2 separate regions of the Homo sapiens genome follow, and region 1 is linked to region 2. The links come from fine-mapping of genetic effects on gene expression. Tissue or cell type: blood mononuclear cells. Region 2 holds a variant in brackets; the other region holds the start of a gene. All regions are shown on one strand. Distances are between the middles of the regions.

Region 1 (9,324 bases), 97 kb before region 2:
TCCCTCCCCACTGGCTTTTTCCTCTCTCCATCCATCCCCATTACCTTCTTCCTCCCTCCATCCATCCCCATTACCTTCTTCCTCTCTACCTCCCTGTGACTTGATGTCTCTTCACTGCTGCCCTCTTTCCTGCCCCCGACCTGCTGGCTTTTCCCCCTCCCCTTCCTCTAGCACCCACAGTCGGACTCCTGCTCTGTTGGAGGTAGTGCTGGGCATTAGAACCATCCCTGACAGTGTGCAACAAACCCACCCGTGGAACGACACGGCCTTCTTTTTCTTCGGGATCCCCTTGGCCCGGCTGGTCACCCTCCGGGGAGCCTCTGGGACTAGCTGGGAGCAGCTCTCCACCCCCGTGGGGGTGTCCCCGGCCTCATGGATCTCTTTGGACTGCCAGATCGTCTTCACCACCACGCTCGCCATGGTGTGGGGGTCTGGCTCCCAGGGAGGGGCTCCTTCCTCTGAGACTTCCTACCTACTGTGACCACAGACCCTCAGGATCCACTGTCCCCTCAGCCTGCCTCACAAAGGACCCAACCACTGGGCCCCAGTGAGTGGGGGGCACAGGGTAGGGAGAGATGCTGGCCCAGGTCATTCCCCTAGGGTTCTCAGTGGACTCCTCCTGTTCAGGATTCTAGTTACATGCCCAATGTGCCCCCCGTCTTCAGAGCTCCAGTGGATGGATTCATGCTAGCCTGTAACTTAACAATGGGTCGGCCCACGGATTCTTGGGAGAGGTCCAACTTCCCTCTCCCTGAGACTAAGCGTGGGGTCACACAGCCCTGTGCACTTGTTCTTGATTCTTCATGTAGCTTCCTGGATTTGACAATTGGCTGGGGTTTGAGAGACTGTGGTCGAAGAGGGCTGAGATCCAGACCCTGACCTGGAGGGTCTCATATTCTATGGGGCGTCGGGGTCGGGGGAAAGGCAATATACAGGTAGATCAACAAAAGAAAGCTAGGTGCGGTGGGCCTCGGGGTCAGGGTAGAAGGTGAGGGAGGAGAGGAAGGTAGAGAGTTGGGGCAGGACAGAGGGTGGTATCCCCCTCCCCCGTTTATTTATTTATTATTTTCTTTAATACTTTTTATTTTTTTTGAGACAGAGTCTCTCTCTGTCATGGAGGCTGGAGTTCAGTGGCGCGATCTCAGCTCATTGCAACCTCCACCTCCCGGGGTTCAACCGATTCTCCTGCCTCAGCCTCCCCAGTAGCTGGGACTACAGGCGCTGGCCACAATGTCCGGCTAATTTTTGTATTTTTAGTAGAGACGGGTTTCACCATGTTGGCCAAGTTGGTCTCAAACTCCCGACCTCAAATGGTCCACCCGCCTTAGCCTCCCAAAGTGTGGGATTACAGACATGAGCCACCATGCTCCGCTATAATTTTTTTTTTTTTTTTTTAGATGGAGTCTCGCTCTGACACCCAGGCTGGAGTGCAGTGGCGTGATCTTGGCTCATTGCAACCTCTACCTCCCAGTTTCAAGCGATTCTCCTGCCTCAGCCTCCTGAGTAGCTGGGACTACAGGTACCTGCCACCACACCCATCTAATTTTTTTTTTGTATTTTTAGTAGAGACAGGGTTTCACTGTGTTGGCTAGGCTAGTCTCCAACTCCTGACCTCGTGATCTGCCCACTTCAGCCTCCCAAAGCATTGGAATTACAGGTGTGAGCCACTGCGCCCCGCCCGCCCAAAGTATTTAAAAAATATATGGAACATGTCACAAATTTGCATGTGGTCTTTGCGCAGGGCCCATGCTAATCTTCTCTGTATCGTTCCAATGTTAATACATGTGCTGTCGAAGCGAGCACTGCCCTGCTATTTAGGGACAGACTTTTCCTGTTCTCTTCACACTTCTCAAAAAGACTAGTTCAAACATCACTGCTAATAGACATTTTAAATGCTGTTATCCCCAGGGAGAAAGTACTTCTTCCTGGTCATGAATGGACTCCAGTTCTTGGAACACTTAATCTTTCTATAATAAAGAACTCCTGGCTGGGCGCGGTGTCTCACACCTGTAATCCCAGCACTTTGGGAGGCCGAGGCGGGCGGATCACCTGAGGTTAGGAGTTCAAGACCAGCCTGGCCAACATAGTGAAACACTGTCTCTACAAAAATACAAAAATTAGGCGAGCATGATGACGGGTGCCTGTAATCCCAGCTACTTAGGAGGCTGAGGCAGGAAAATCGCTTTAACTCGGGAGGAAGAGGTTACAGTGAGCCGAGATTGAGTCACTGAACTCCAGCCTGGGGGACAGAGAGAGACTCTGTCTCAAAAAAAAGAAAAAAAAAAAAGGCCGGGCGCAGTGGCTCACGCCTGTAATTCCAGCACTTTGGGAGGCCGAGGTGGGCGGATCACAAGGTCAGGAGATCGAGACCATCCTGGCTAACACGGTGAAACCCCGTCTCTACTAAAAACACAAAAAATTAGCCAGGCATGGTGGCGTGCGCCTGTAGTCCCAGCTACTTGGGAGGCTGAGGCAGGAGAATGGCGTGAACCCGGGAGGCGGAGGTTGCAGTGAGCTGAGATCGCGCCACTGCACCCCAGCCTGGGCGACAGAGCGAGACTCCATCTCAAAAAAAAAAAAAAAGAACTTCAAGTCCTGGGATTAATAATTTTTCTTGTGTTTAATGGGGCTGCTTTATGTTCTTCAGGGGCAAACAGCACCCCCCTCCCATATTAGAAATGGACTCTCCCTGTGACTAAAACAGCTGAGCAATTTCTGTCCTCCTGGAATCCAAAATGGACTTTCCCAGGCCCCATTCCTGGAAACCCAAATGGACGCATCCATTGAGCCTGGAAGGTGGGCTCTTCTCAACCTCCTTTCCATCTCCCAGGATTCAGAATGGCCATTCCAAAGGTCCAGAACACACCCCCAAGGCTCATTCCAGGAATTCTTGGCTTCTGAGATTAGAAAAGGCTGATGGGGTGGAGTTTTGTTCCTACAGGTGACAGAAATGGACTCTTCCAGTTCCCTTTGTCCCAAATTTCTCAATCTCCTGGGGCGTTGGGAGTTCTGGCCGTTTTGCCTTCCCCAAAGCCAGTTTACCAAAGAGTCTCTGGGGAGCTGGGGGTTGGGGATGGAGGCTGGGGCTGGGCCAAAGCAGATTCACCTATTTCTTCTTTTAACAAATGTTGTTGAAACTGTTCAAGGCCAGGTCCCATTCTTGCCCAGAAGGAGTTCCCAGTCTGGAGGAGACAATCAATTTTGGTTTGATATCTGCTACAATGGAGGCTGCCCGAGAGACACTGCGGTTGGACAAAAAAAAAAAGGCAACATATATTGAAAAGTAAGCCAAGATACGGTTTACGTTTATTTCTGCTTTTTCACTTCCAAGCTGTGTGGCCCTGGGCAAGTCATTCGCCCTCTCGACCTAAGTTTTAACTTCTGCTTAATGGGACTAGCCTTGAATTACTGTTTTTCACTCTGAGATTCTAGGTCTCCTGACAACTCAAGTCCCGACACGTTGGCTGCAGAGAAGGGGGGAGGGGAGGAAGGCTTCCTAGAAGAGGATTTCAGCAGTCGGGGGTGACAGTGGAGGGAGAAAGGGAACACGGAGACGCTTGCGCAGTAAACACCGCACGCTCTCTTGCCTCGCCCAACCCCTTCTCTGCAGCAGGGAATTGCAGGCGTCGCTCCACCTATCCCAGCCGAGCGGAGTGACACCCTCCCCTCTTTCCTTCTCTACTGATCTTCGCCTTCCGCCCGCCCCACAGCCGCCCAATGGAGGGCTGAAGTAGGACAGATCTCGCCAATCCGCGACGCCTGCGGGGCAGGTCTACCCGTTCATTGGTCCCAGTCAACCTAAGTCCCGCCTCCTAGGACCGTTCCCCGCCTTCCTTCACGTCCCTCCCTTCCTCCTTGGAGAGCCGCTAGATCCAATCAGTGTTTGACCTGGCCGCGCGGAGGGGGCGGGCCCATGATACGCAATCGAACCCCGCCCGTCTCTCGGGCAACGCCTCCTCCCCCCCCTCCCCAGCTCCCAAACGGAAATAGCGGAACACTGGGCCAATCGTAGCGTCGTGCCTTTGCTTGGCGGCCAATGAGAGAGGAAGTGGGGGAGAAACCCGCCTGTGAGCGGCAGGAGCTCAAGCCAGTGGGCGGCTCAGAGCTCCGGACCGCGGGCGGAGGGGAGGGGCAGGGGGCGGTGCCACGGCCTGCCAGCCCGCCCGCCCGCCCGCCAGCCAGCCCTCCCCGCGGCCGGCTCGGCTCCTTGGCGCTGCCTGGGGTCCTTTCCGCCCGGTCCCCGCTTGCCAGCCCCCGCTGCTCTGTGCCCTGTCCGGCCAGGCCTGGAGCCGACACCACCGCCATCATGCCGGCCGTGTCCAAGGGCGATGGGATGCGGGGGCTCGCGGTGTTCATCTCCGACATCCGGAACTGTGAGCGCGCGGCCGGGGGACACTGGAGACGCGGGGGAGGGGGGAGCGTGAAATTGAGGGGTTTGGGGATCACAGAGGGACCCGGGGGATCAAAAGCCTCTGCGGCCGTATAGGGACAGCATAGATGGGCCCCAGGAAGAACTTTAGAGTGGGGGGCACGTAGGGGCTTGGGGTGTCATAGAGTGCCTCTTGAGGTGACGACACGGAGTAGCTAGAGGGGTCCGGGAGGGCTTGAAAGGGGAGGAAGCCAGTGAGGTCCCGGGGATGGGAGCATAGAGGTGTCCCCTGGGAAAGACTGAAAAGCTGGGGGATCTTACAAACGATGGGGTTAGAGGGATTCCCAATGTAGAGAAGAAGTGAAAGAAGTGTATGGCGGGGGTGCCCTGTGGAGCGATGGAATGGGAAGAGGCCAGAGGGGACCTGGAGGAAGTGGAATGCCGGAAGCCTAATGAAGCAGGGCTTGAGGACCTGGGATAGGGGGTGTCATACAGGGGAAAGGGGTTAGATAGGTCACCGAGGCTCCTGGCCAGTGGTATAGAGGAGGCCTGAGAGTGGTTGAAAGTCCATGAGTTTGGGGCAGGGAGATGATGGGACGGGGAGACTATAAGGACACCCTGGTGAAGGATAGAGGGGCTTCAGGGTGGGAGATTGCCTAGAAGACATGGAAGGCAGTGTGGAGGGGGCTAGAGGGGCAGCTGAGGGGAAAGGAGGGACCCAAGGAACACAGAGGAAAAGAGCTGTCGGTGTAAGGTCTTGGGAGAACCTGTGACAGGGAACGGGGGGCCAGGAAAGAAGAGGACATTAGAGTAGGGGATTGGGGAAAGGGTAGAAGAAGGAGCGCCCAGACCTCAAGGAAGGCGTTGGGTTCTGAAGTGCTTGAGGGGTAGATATCTGGAAAGCTGGGAATAGGGGAAGTCTAATCCCAGAGAGAGGTCAGGGGTCAGGCAGCAGGACAGGCAGGGATCTGAGCCCTTTTCTATTTGACCACAGTAATATGGGGACGGTGGTCCCTGCCAGGAAGAGTTGTCGTGACGATGGGAATCCTGGCGGCAAGTCAGCTCTCAACTCCTGGGAATGGCTGTGGGTGATTGGAGCTGCCAGGAGTCTTCAGAGGCTGCATCCGCATGGGCTCTGGGGTCAGCCAGACTTGGGTTTGCGTTTGAGCACTGCCACTCCCTGGCTGTGTGACCTTGAATGAGGGACTTCACCTCTCGGTTTCCTCATCTGTCAAGAGAGACTGCTGATAGTATCTTCCTGAGGGGCTTGTGACAATGCCCCTCAGGCCTTTCACTCGTTCCAGGCCCCAGATGGAACTTGGCTATTGTTTTTACTCCGTTGGCTCTGAACAGCAGCCCTGTAAAGTACCCAGTGATGGTTGTTGTTTTAGAATTTAACTGTTATGGAAGGATCTGGCATGTAATAGGTGCTCAGGGAACAGGAGGGTGGAAACAGTTGAGTATCAGTTGGAGGAGAAATGATCACTTGTTATGATAAGGGGCGGGGCTATGGGGGTTGTGGAGGAGCTGGGAGCCACTGTTAGCAGACGGGGGCTGCCTCTGTTACCCACCAGGGATGTGACCCTCCACGAGTTGTTTAACCTCTTTCAGGACGTTTTCTTGTCTGCAAACTTCATTCATAACAGTGTCTTGCCTCTGAAGGCTCATTTATTCATTCATTCACTTGACAAATACTTTTTGATTGCTCTAGTGTTGTCCAGGCCCTGTTCTAGGTACTGGGGTGACAATAGTGAACAGAAATTCCTGTTCTTGCTGGTCATGGTGGCTCATGCCTGTCATCCCAGCACTTTGGGGGGCCGAGGTAGGCGGATCACCTGAGGTCAGGAGTTCAAGACCAACCTGGCCAACATGGTGAAACTCCATCTCTACTAAAAATACAAAAATTAGCCAGGTGTGGTGGTGGGTGCCTGTAATCCCAGCTACTCAGGAGGCTGAGGCAGGAGAATCGCTTGAACCCGGGAGGCAGAGGTTGCAATGAGCCGAGATTCACACCATTGCACTCCAGGCTGGGCAACAAGAGTGAAACTCCGTCTCCAAAAATAAAAAAAAAGAAAAAGAAACTCCTGTCCTTGGGAGCTCCCTTCCCCGAGGAAGACAGAACATATGCACAGGGAACACCCTGATATACAACCTCAGGACCTGACTGGTTCTGTGAAGAAAAATAAGGAGGAAATGGTCGGGAGAGGGACTAGGATGGAGAGGGTACTCAGTAGGCCTCGTGGAGGAAGTCATATCTGAGTGGAGCAAGCCCTGTGGATTTTGGAGGAAAGGGGTCCTGGCACAGGGAGGTGCATTCAGAGGTCCTGAGGTTGCGGCATGCTTGACATGTGTTCGAGCGAGAGGGAGAAGGTCAGTGTGGCTGAAGCTGTGGGAGTGAAGGGGAGAGAGGGCGGGTGTGGAGGGGAGTGGGAACAGGATCGGGAAAGGCTTTCTGGGCCATGGTGAGCACTTTGGCCTTTGTCTGCATGAGAATATTTTGAGCAGGGGAGGGATGTGACCGATTGATGTTTTAAGATAATTCCTCTGGCTGCTGTGAGAACAGATTCTAGAGGTAGCCATGGAAGCAGGGAACCAAATTAGGAGGGTGTTGCAGGCCTCTGGGTGAGAGATGGTGCTGGCTTAACAGGGTGAGAAGGGACTGGTGAGAAATGGGTTGGTGATACATTTTTTTTTCCGAGACAGTCTCTGTTGCCCAGGTTGGAGTGCAGTGGCACGATCATACCTCACTGCAACCTCCGCCTCCCAGGTTCAAGCAATTCTCGTGCCTCAGCCTCCCCGGTAGCTGGGATTACAGGCACCCGCCACCACGCTTGGCTAATTTTTGTATTTTTAGTAGACGCAGGGTTTCCCCATGTTGGCCAGGCTGGTCTCGAACTCCCAACCTCAAGTGATCTGCCCGCCTTGGCCTCCCAAAGTGCTGGCATTATAAGCGTGAGCCACTGCACCCAGCCTGGGATACAACTTGAAGGAAAAACTGTCAGGATTTGCAAAGGGATTTGATGATGGGGGTTGGGGAAGGAAAGAGATCGTCCCGTCACTGCAGGACCCCAGAGACGAGCCAGAGGACAGAGGGGAGATGCAGGCTTGGGGCACTGGTAGTAATTTAGCCACAGGAATTAGGGCTGGAGAATCAGGAGCCTTTTCTTAGCAAGCGTATGTTGAACGGCTGGTATGTCTCAAGAATTGTGCTGAATGCTGGGGACACTGGTGAACAGGACAGACTTGTCCACCCCCTCCATGAAGCTCCCAGCCCTGTGGGGGAGAAGGTGCAACATACAAATTGCAGTAGTCCTTCACACTAATACCTGGACACGGATGTTCACTGCAACATTATTCATGATAGCCGGAAAACAGAAACGGGCCAAATGCCCATCAACTGAGAAATAAAGTGTGGTCTATGTAGTGGAATATTACCGGGCCTTAAAAAATAATGACGTCCTGCTACATGCTGCCACAGGGATGGACCTTGAAAACATGACACCAAGTGAAAGAAGCCAGACACAGGAGGCCACGTGTTGTATGATTCCATGTTGATAGAGTATCTTGAATAGGCAGATCCATGGAGACAGAAAGATTAGTGGTTGCCTAGAGTAGGGGCTGGTGGGATGGGGAGTGACTGCTCATGAATGCATAGGTTCTTTTTTTATTTTTTGAGATGGAGTCTCACTCTGTCGCCCAGGCTGGAGTGCAATGGGGTGATCTCGGCTTACTGCAACCTCTGCCTCCCAAGTTCAGGCGATTCTCCTGCCTCAGCTTCCTGAGTAGCTGGGATTACAGGCGTGTGCCACCACACCTGGCTAATTTTTGTACTTTTAGTAGAGACGGGGTTTTTACATGTTGGTCAGGATGGTCTCGAACTCCTGGCCTCAGGTGATCCACTACCCCAGCCTTCCAAAGTGCTAGGATTACAGGTGTGAGCTACCATGCCCGGCAGCATTCAGAGCTTCTTTTGGGTTCATGAAAAAGCCTACAGCTGGACACGGCACATGCTTGTAGTCCCAGCTACTTGGGAGACTGAGGTAGGAGGATCATTTGAACCCAGGAGTTCGAATCCAGCCCGGGCCACATAGTGAAACCTCATCTCTTAAAAAAAAAAAAAAAAAAAAAAAGAAAGGTCCTGGAATTCGATAGTAGTAATGGTTGCACAACATCATGAATGTACTAAAGAACGCTGAATTGTTCACTGTAAAAGGGTCAATTTTATGGTATGTGAATTGTATCTCTTTTTTTTTGTGACAGTCACAAAAATGGCGCGATCTTGGCTCACTGCACCCTCCATTTCCCAGGTTCAAGCGATTCTCCTGCCTCAGCCTCCCGAGTAGCTGGGATTATAGGCGCCCGCCACTATGCCCCGCTGATTTTTGTATTTTTAGTAGAGACAGGGTTTCACCATGTTGGCCAGGCTGGTCTCGAACTCCTGATCTCGAGTGATCTGCCTGCTTCAGCCTCACAAAATGCTGAGATTACAGGTGTGAGCCACCGCGCCTGGCCGTATCTCGATTTTTTTTTAAATGGGGAAAGAATTTGCAGCTGTCCTAAGCCCAGTGAGGAAGAGGGCCATGGTGTTGAGAGAATGGGGATTCTGTGTGGTCAGCGAGCTGCGGCCTGGCTTTGCTTCACAAGAGACCTTTGGAGCTGTGTGGGCAGGAAGTAGGGGAGTTACCTAGGCTGAGGGCAGTGAGAAGAGCTGTGAAGGCAGAGGCGGGGCAAGTGCAAAGGTCCTGACTTCCGGACGCCATGGCGGGCATCTCTATCTAGTCCCAGCTACTCAGGAGGTGGAGGCAGAAGGATTGCTTGAGGCCAGGAATTTGAGACCAGCCTTGGCAACATAGCAAGACCCTGTCTCTCTTTCTTTTTTTTGACAGAGTCTGGCTCTGTCATCCCGGCTGGAGTACAGTGGTGCGATCTCAGCTCGCTGCAACCTCCTCCTCCTG
Region 2 (8,463 bases):
GGCCTCTGATTTCTCGCCGTAGATGGGGGGGTAGTGGTTACCCCGGGCTGGGCCCCTCCAGGAGTCACAGATGAGGCCCCCGCAGAGACTGGTGAGTGGTGACCCTGTCATGTACAGGAGGGACCCTGGGGCATGTGGGGGGGGTGGGGTTGGGAAAGAAGCAGGGCGACCTTGGCCTTGGGGAGAGCAGAGCAGAGGGAGAGGCAGCAGTCCCAGCGGTCCTAGGCTGTCGGGAAACTGCAGCCCAGCCTCAGGGCCATGGGAGGTGGTATCCAGGCCTGGGTGGGGCCAGGCCTCTGCTCACAGGGATGTGGGGTCAGTGCTTGGGAGCCTGTGGCCAGCAGCCCCCACTGCACCCCTGCCCCCAGGTGACACGCTTCTGAGCAGGGGCCCCTGGGGACTTCAACTGCCCAGCAACATGGAGGATGGTGTCCTGAGGCCTCCAAGGACGGTCCCCACCCCTCTACGTTTCCCCAATAAAGCCTTTTAAAAACCTGCCTGCCTTCTCTGCTCACTGCCCGATGCCTTGCAGCCCCCTAGCTCTAAGGTGGCCCAGCAGGCTGGACAGCCCGGGAACTCACTGGGTCTGGCTCTCGGCTGTCCACACCCTCTTCCCCCCCGAATCTCCAGACCCGCAGGCCTTGGGTTCAAGTTCAGTGTCACAGAACCTGAGCTGGATTTTGTCCTCAGGGGTCACACCTGGCCTTGAGCCAGCCCCTCGGTTGAGGCTCGTGGGCTCACCAGCTGGCTCTCGGGGGGCCACACAGCGCCCTCCCTGTGTGTTCCCCGGCTAATGTCTAAAGTGCTCATGCCAGGTCCCAGCTGGACTCCCCTCGGTAGGGCCCCACCTTTTGTTACCTGAAAATGTCCTTAAAGCCTCCTCCATGTAAGAAACTGGCAGGCCTGGAGCCCCTCCCCCGTGGGGACCACCCTCCTTCCAGCAAAATGCCGGCCAAGCTCAAGGAGAAACAGCGTTTATTGTGGAGGGGAGCTGGGCGGGGCTCAGCCCTCGGAGAACTGGCAGTACAGCCGCCCCAGCCTCGGCTCCACCCATAGCCGGAACGGGATCTCCAGGATGGCAGAGAAGCCTTCAGCCAGCGTTGGGGCCTCGAACTGCTTCCTGGCAGTGGTGGGAACAGTGAGGGACAGCCTGGATCATGTGGCCCAGCCAGTGCCCCTGCCCCCTGCTATCCCCAACAGTACCTGTAGCCATACATGACCATGTCTGACACGGGGATATGAGAGGAGTCCGTCATCTCTCGAAACTGTGGGGAACATCAGAGGGGCGGCAGGCCCAGGGGTCAGGGGAGGAGGGGGGTCAGGGGGTGCAGCCCGGGGGGTGTCCGGGCTGAGCGGGCTCACCCGGTTGTTGTGGCGCGCCTGCTCCAGAGTGGCGGTGAAGAGGAAGCAGCGGCAGGGGACGCCCGCGGCTCGGGCACACTGGACGTACCTGTGGGGGAAGGAGCTGGATGTGCAGGCCCCGCCCACCCCGCCGCAGGCCACCTACGGCCCCGCGGTCACGCTACCTGGCGCGGCTCGCGGCGTCTGGGTTTGTGTTGTCGATGGCGACCCGTTTCCCTTGCTTCAGGGCTGTCTCACACGTGGTCACACAGCGCTGCCAGGAGCCTAGCGTGTCCTGGGGACACGAGAGGTCACAAACAGATCGGCAGACCCAGGGGGAGAGAAGACCCCGAGCGGGGACGGGGAGGCAATGATGGAGGAAAGCCGCCCCAAACCAGTTGAGAGGTGGAGATGGGAACTTTATAATAGATTTGGGGCGGCAAAAGCCTGGTCATACCCTGTTCACGTGGACATATCCGGCCGACACGAGGTGCTTCTTGAGAAAGGTGGACTTCCCGGCTGTGTGGGGGGCAGTGTCGGTGGGTGGCCTAGGACCCAGGCGGGGCTCAGGGCACGCGCACAGGAACAGGACACTTACCCCCAGGGAATCCCACTGCGACAACCACCTCCGGGCTGGCGCTCAGGAGGGCCCTGGACTCGGGGAGGCAGAGAGGCCCTGAGCGGGAGACAGTCCTCTGCGAGGGGCGGGGGACACGCGTGAGATGCCGTCCCCATCCCCGGGAGCCCTCCCATCCCCACCCCCACCCCCGCCCCAGGGCCTCACCGGATCAAAGGCTGGGAGCTCGAAGCCGGCTGCTGGCCACTTGAGAAAGAACTCCTCAGGCGTGGCGAAGGGCAGGCCAAGGTTGAGGGCAAACTAGGGGTTGAGGACGAACATCAGACACAGGCCAGGGTCGGGCTCGGGCGCGGGGCAGGGGGCAGGGGCCTCACCAGGCGATCGGCGCAGGAGAAGTCTTTCTTCTTCCGCCCCGGGGCCCAGTTGGCCGGGCGTCCGGCTGCGTCTGGAACACACGGGACACCCCGTTCCCACCAGCTCGGAGGGAGGCGTCCCAGCCCACCCTCAGCAGCCTCCAGGCCCTTACCTCCCACAAAGATGCTGTCCCCGATGGATATGGGCGTGCCGTCGTTGGCCTACGGGAGACGGTAGTGAGGAGGCCCTTCCCACAAATGTCCCCCCGCAGCGGTAGCGGGTCCCTGGGGCTGCTTCGCCTGGTCTGTGCCCCACATCAGGAATCATCCCCCGACCTTTCATGTCCTCACTCTCCAGCCACTTTGCACCGTGCTCCTGGCCCCCTCCCCCCTCCGTGGTCTCTCCACACAGCCCCCTCCCTCCAGGTCTCCCGACTTCACCTCCTCCCGTTCCCCACGCGGCCACCGGAGGGCACCCACCCTGCTACAGCTCCAGCCTCCGGCGTGCCGGCGCCTCCCAGGTTCCCCCTCCCTCAGGGCAAAAGCGGGGCCCTCCCTGTGGCCCTGCCCTCTCCCCTCCCTCGCTTAGAGCCAGCCGCATGGGCCTCGCTGTCCCTAACTAGCCCAGGCTAGGGACTGCCTCAGGGCCTTTGCACTTGCTGTCACTCCCACAAGGGGGGGGACCGCTTTCCCCAGGTGTCCACCTGGCTCCCTCCTTTCCCTGCCTTAGGCCTTTTCCTCTGATGTCACCTCCTCAGAGGCCATCCCTGCCCACCACGGGTGATGCCTGCTTTCTCCAGCTCCCTCCCTCCTGCTGTTTTACACGCCAGTCTGCCCATCCGCCTAGAGTCACCGCCCTCGCCGTGAGGGCCCTGCTGGAGCAGGCCGTCCCGCTCACTGATACCTTCAGCTCAAGAATGCGCTAAACTTCAGAACAAATGCACACACAAACGAATGAACGAAGGAATGAACAGCTTCCCTACTACTCTGATGTAGAAAGTCTGAAAGCACTGGTCTCGTAAACCAACATCTAAGATGTCACAGCAAAAAACAGAAGGAGGGAGCGAGAGAGGACAGAGGAGTAAGGAGGCCCCAACCGGAGGCCGGGGAGCCCAGGAGTGAGGGGCTGGAGTGAGGAAAAGGAGGGGGGCCGGGCAGGCTGCAAGACTCACCTGCTCCTGCAGATGGTCCCACATGCCCGTCACCGGCTTCCGGTACAAGCCTGCGTGCGTGGCCACCAGCACCTGTGGATGGGAGGGGGCCACCAGCTTTAGCTCCCCCTCAAGCACCTACTGGATGCCACCCCAGCCCAGAATTTGTAGCTGATGATGGGTTCCTATCAGCATCACACTGCCTGAGGCCTCCGCCCCGCTTACCCTGGAGTCTAAAGCCCTCGCTCTGGATCTCTGTGCCCCCACATAGCTCCCAGCCTCCCTTCCAGCCATACCTGGAAGGGGACCCCCAGCTTCTCCACCACAGCCTCCACCTTGGCCTTGAACTCCTCGGCTGGCAGCTTCCCGCGCCCGATGCTCATCTGGTTGGTGAAGATCACCAGCTGGGGAGCAAAGGGTGTCACCAGAC[G/A]CTCTGCTCACCAGGGCCTTGGTCTGACTGCGGTCGGACCGCCACGTGCACGTGCCCATGCAGACAGGCGGCTGCACATACCTTGTAGCCCTCGGCTTCCAGCTCTCGGAGCTTACGGGGAATCTCTGGGTACAAGATCCTACGGCAGGTATGAAGCGGCAGGGGTGACCCGGGGCCAGAGGTGGACTCCAGGCCTCACTCACTCCCTTGTTTTGCCTCTTATCACCTCCAGTCACTGGGGCCAGTGGGAAAGACCTTCCCAGAGCGTGTGGTGATGAGCGTCCCGTCCAGATCAAAGCCAGCCACCTGGTGTCACCAAGGAAAGACAAACAGCAGCACTGTGATACCTCTGACCCTCCTCACTCACAGGCTGACTCACACCAACCCTGCCAGGCAGGGTGTTATCACTGCCATCTCACAGATGGGGAAACCGAGTCACAGAGCACCTCCATCTCAAGCATCCGTGATGCCTCTGAGTGGGGCCCGACATCTTAACCTTACTGTCTCCTGTTACTCCTTATGACGCCAGCCCCAGGATTACAGTCTTTAAAATGGGGGTTAATGTCTTACCCAGCCTCCTTCTTCCCCTGGCCTTCACCACCTCGGTGGGCTAATAACCGTGAAAATAAAAGCAGGAGCAAAGCTTTGGGTGCTAACTGCATGTCAGGAACTATGCCACGTGCTTTTTTTATGGATTCAGCATCGTAGAGATGAGACACATGGGACTCAGAATGTGGTGGTAACAGCATTTGAACTCAAGTCTCTCTGGACATAAAAAATCCTCATCGTAATAGCTCCTACTGAGACAGTCATGGTCATTGCTGATTACTGGGTGGTCACTGTGGGTAACGCAGGAGCTGACATATATCATTCTCCCCACTGCTTAACTGCTTACAACGATCCCTGCATTTATCATTAGGCCCATTTCTCAGAAAAGTAAGTAGAGGCTAAAAAGTTGAGAGCACGCAACAAACGTGGGATTGGGTCCCAGTCTGTGGCGGCTCCCTCAGCCCTCGGCGTGGCCCTCACCTTGCCCTGGGGTTTCACCCCAGCTGCGGTGAACACTAGCAACTTCTCCAAGTTCTCCCAGCCGGGGTTTGACTTCCGCATACGCTTCTTCGGCAGCTCAGCATCTCTCTTCTCATCTTGGGACACCAGAGGGGTGCCAGGCGGAGTATCTGGCTGGGATTCTGGTGTGCGGGTCTCTTCCCAGCGCAGGGTCAGTGGGTGGAGGCCATTGACCAAATACAGTGTGTCCCCCACCCCCAGAGAGCCCTCCAACCCCGGCTTCAACTCCTGGGTCCCGGTAGTTGAGGGGTTAACTCCCAGCTGCAGAAAGAGAGGGAGGAGCTGGGACTGGCTCCGCCCCCACCGGGAGCTTCCTCCAATCAAATACCCAGCGGAAAAATCAGCCCTTCTCCACCACTATCAGACCCTTAGGCCCCACCTCTTCACTTTGGAACGGGCTTTGGAACGGTTACAGGTTTTCAGCCTTGTCCGAATCTTTTTTTTTTTTTTTTTTTTTTTTCCCCTGGAGATATAGGCTTGTTTTGTCGCCCAGGCTGGAGTGCAGTGGTGCAATCTTGGCTCATTGAAACCTGTGCCTCCTGGGTTCAAACGATTCTCCTGCCTCAGCTACCCGAGTAGCTGGGATTACAGGCACCCGCCACCATGCCCCGCTAATTTTTGTATTTTTAGTAGAGATGGGGTTTCGCCATGTTGGCCAGGCTGGTCACAAACTCCTGATCTCGGGTGATCCGCCCGCCTAGCCTCCCAAAGTGCTGGGATTACAGGCGTGAGCCACCGCGCCTGGCCGCCTTGTCCAATTTCTAAGGTCTTGGACAGGTACCCACCCCACTGAAACAGGCAACACTTCTTTCTTTACTGGACACATCCCCTTCTCTCCCAGCCATATTTTTTCTTTTCTTTTTTTGAGACAGGTTCTCGCTCTGTCACCCAGGCTGAAGTACAGTGTGGTGATCACTGCTCACTACACCCTTGACCTACTGGGCTCAAGGGATCCTCCCGCTTCAGCCTCCCGATTAGGAACTACAAGGACGCGCCACCATTCCCGCTAATTTTTTAGAGAGACAGGTTTCACCATGTCGCTCAGGCTGGTCTCGAACTCCTGGGTTCAAGCGATCCGCCCGCCTCGGCCTCCCAAAGTGCTGGGATTACAGGCTTGAGCCACCACGCCCGGCCCCAATCAGATTTTCCTAATGTACCCCTTCACTGACGGCTTGCAATTCCTCCCCAAATCCCATCCCCAGGCCTTGCTGGCCCTTGCAGAGGCACTGATACCTGTTTCACTGCCACTGTCCGGGTCTCAGGATCTGCGACCAGCTCCACTGAGGATTGGAGGGGTGGAGTCAGGATTTGCATCCTTGTGTGATTGGGTCCCTCATTTCTGGGGAGTGTGGCCTGCTTCAGGCTATAGCATCCAGGGAGTAAGAGGCAGTTTATTTCTACATGGGATTGGCTCCTTGACATGCAGTAGCCAGATAGTGGCACTAGGATTGCCTGACACTGGTCCTTGCAAGGGACAGGGAGGTACTTTTCTCTACAGAATTGGTTTCCTCCTTGACAAAAAATGTGGCTAGATATAGGTCCGGGGCTTGGCCTGTTACCATCCATCCCAACCTAGCGACATTTACTTTTCTCCACAGGATCATTTTTCTCTTGACGAAGGTCGTCGCCTGTTTCTGGATTTCCCGATGGCCTGAGCATCATCCGCGCAGTGAACATCCTCCCTAAATCGGCTCGATCCCCTCTCCCCCAAAGGATCTAGCTAATTCTAAATCAAGCACAAACTTTATCTTCCTGTACTCCCTAGAGAGCACCTTCCGACTTCGGGGCTGGCTGCACCACTGCAATCCCGCGTAGCAGCCAAGCGTCCCTCTGGATTGTTCCCGCTTTTGCAGCAGGCCACACCCCCTCCAGCTCAGGCCCCGCTCACCTTGAGTTCTGGAGCACTTCCGGTCCGTAACCTGGGTCAGGGGTCCCCTGCCCAGGACCAGGGCTTGCCCGTCCGAGGGCAGGAAGATGGGGGGCGCTCCCCCAGGGGGGCTCTCGAGCCACAAGCGGCCCGGGGCCTCCACCTCGCCCATCCTGGGTGCCGGCCTGGGGAGCAGGTAAACGGGCTTGAGCGGCGCACAGCCCCAATTTGCTGCAGGAAGTCCCGCCTCCTCCCACATCCACTAGAAAGTTTCCCCACCATTAACTGCTCCGGAAGTCCCACCCGCTCGCCTTCCGCGGGTCGACCCGTTTCCCAGGCGACGACGCGTGCTCCATCCCTCCCCGAGTTGCAATCCCCACTTTCCAGCGTACAGGCAGAGAGCCTCGCACATGCCTCCGCCCCGCCCCGTACTCACCCGGGACCGCGGCTTGGGCTCACGGCCACTTCCGACCAGGGAGGTCCTGCCCGAGGTGCCCCGCCTGCAACCCGGCCGGCGGCGGTCGGTTCCTCGGCGGACGGAAATGACTCGTCCCCTCGTGGGTGGGGGGCGGGGCCTGGCCTCCTCCCACAGCAGCCACGCCCCTTCCCCGACTCCCGGCCCCCAGGGTCTCTCGGCAGCCCTGACCTTCATCTCTCTTGCTGCAACGCGAGGCTCAGGCCGGTAGCGGGGACTGGATCCTCCGTTAGCAGATTTGCCTCTTTCCACCTTGACTTCTAATTTTCATCCCAGGGAGGAAGATTTTTTTCCCATCTGATGGTCATTGTCAGTCGAGGAAACCTCCGCCCCCGACAGCGCCCCTAAGTCCTTCTTTGGCTTCACCCTCGATGTTCTAGTTTCCTCATCTATAAAAAGGATAATCGTTTCCGCTTCGTGGGGTTACCATGACGATTAAAGGAGCTAACACGTGACAAAAGCTTTAAAAAATGGGTGGTAGTGAGCCCTGTTTAAGTCTTTTTTTTTTTTTTTTTTTGAGACGGAGTCTCACTCTGTCGCCCAGGCTGGAGTGCAGTGGCGCGATCTCGGCTCACCTGCAAGCTCCGCCTCCCGGGTTGACGCCATTCTCCTGTCTCAGCCTCCCGAGTAGCTGGGACTACAGGCGCCCGCCACCACGCCCAGCTAATTTTTTGTATTTTGAGTAGAGACGGGGTTTCACCGTGTTAGCCAGGACGGTCTCGATCTCCTGATCTCGTGATCCGCCCACCTCGGCCTCCCAAAGTGCTCAGATCCGTTTAAGTCTTATTTAGTGTTAGCATTCTTTCGGTAGTGGTCTGGTGGGACTACGTTTACCTAGTCCTAATTTCGGACGAGGTTCCACCTGCTTTCTAACCTCCAGCCATTTTTTTTTCCCTTTGGAGAAGGGGTCTCACTGTGCTGCCCAGGCTGATCTCGACCTCCTGGTGTCATGTGATCCTCCCGCCTTGGCCTCCCAGCGTGTTGGGCTTATAGGCGTGAGGCACCAAGCCCAGTTGCTCCAGTCCTTTTATAATAGAAGACTCCCGGCTGGAGTTCCTGGCTTTGCTGGTGAATATGTGGGCTCTGTCTCCAACACTCACCTCCTCAAGATTGGGTTCCATGGTCACATAAGACTGGGATGCTCTCCTCCACCCCATGAACCTGTGTCTTCATATCTATAAAATGGGCACAAAGCCAGGCG

What was found. PIP is the estimated chance that this variant, and not a neighbour inherited with it, causes the effect.
Region 1: AP2A1 starts here. The variant in region 2 is fine-mapped to the expression of AP2A1 in blood mononuclear cells (TOPMed, PIP above 0.99).

Annotation. Positions count from the first base shown.
Region 1 is chr19:49,762,828-49,772,151 of GRCh38, forward strand. It overlaps AP2A1 (adaptor related protein complex 2 subunit alpha 1), which reads left to right and starts at 4,174. Exons shown (of 23, transcript NM_130787.3): 1 at 4,174-4,373. The coding sequence starts at 4,307. TSKS (testis specific serine kinase substrate) reads right to left here and starts at 479. Exons shown (of 11, transcript NM_021733.2): 1 at 251-479. The coding sequence starts at 420. It also overlaps the pseudogene RNU6-841P. RefSeq lists enhancers at 2,839-3,816, 3,870-4,638, 8,578-9,324 and a silencer at 3,729-4,308.
Region 2 is chr19:49,860,246-49,868,708 of GRCh38, forward strand. PTOV1 (PTOV1 extended AT-hook containing adaptor protein) reads left to right here. Exons shown (of 12, transcript NM_001394010.1): 12 at 23-497. The coding sequence ends at 34. PNKP (polynucleotide kinase 3'-phosphatase) reads right to left here and starts at 7,331. Exons shown (of 17, transcript NM_007254.4): 1 at 7,224-7,331; 2 at 6,809-6,972; 3 at 6,154-6,200; 4 at 4,882-5,181; 5 at 4,079-4,158; 6 at 3,934-3,991; 7 at 3,719-3,826; 8 at 3,444-3,515; 9 at 2,445-2,493; 10 at 2,293-2,363; 11 at 2,126-2,218; 12 at 1,940-2,036; 13 at 1,799-1,860; 14 at 1,527-1,636; 3 more. The coding sequence starts at 6,959. The coding sequence ends at 1,003. RefSeq lists enhancers at 5,221-6,003, 6,004-6,786, 6,787-7,568 and silencers at 6,728-7,097, 7,168-7,467. The variant G/A (reference allele first, on the strand shown) is at 3,853.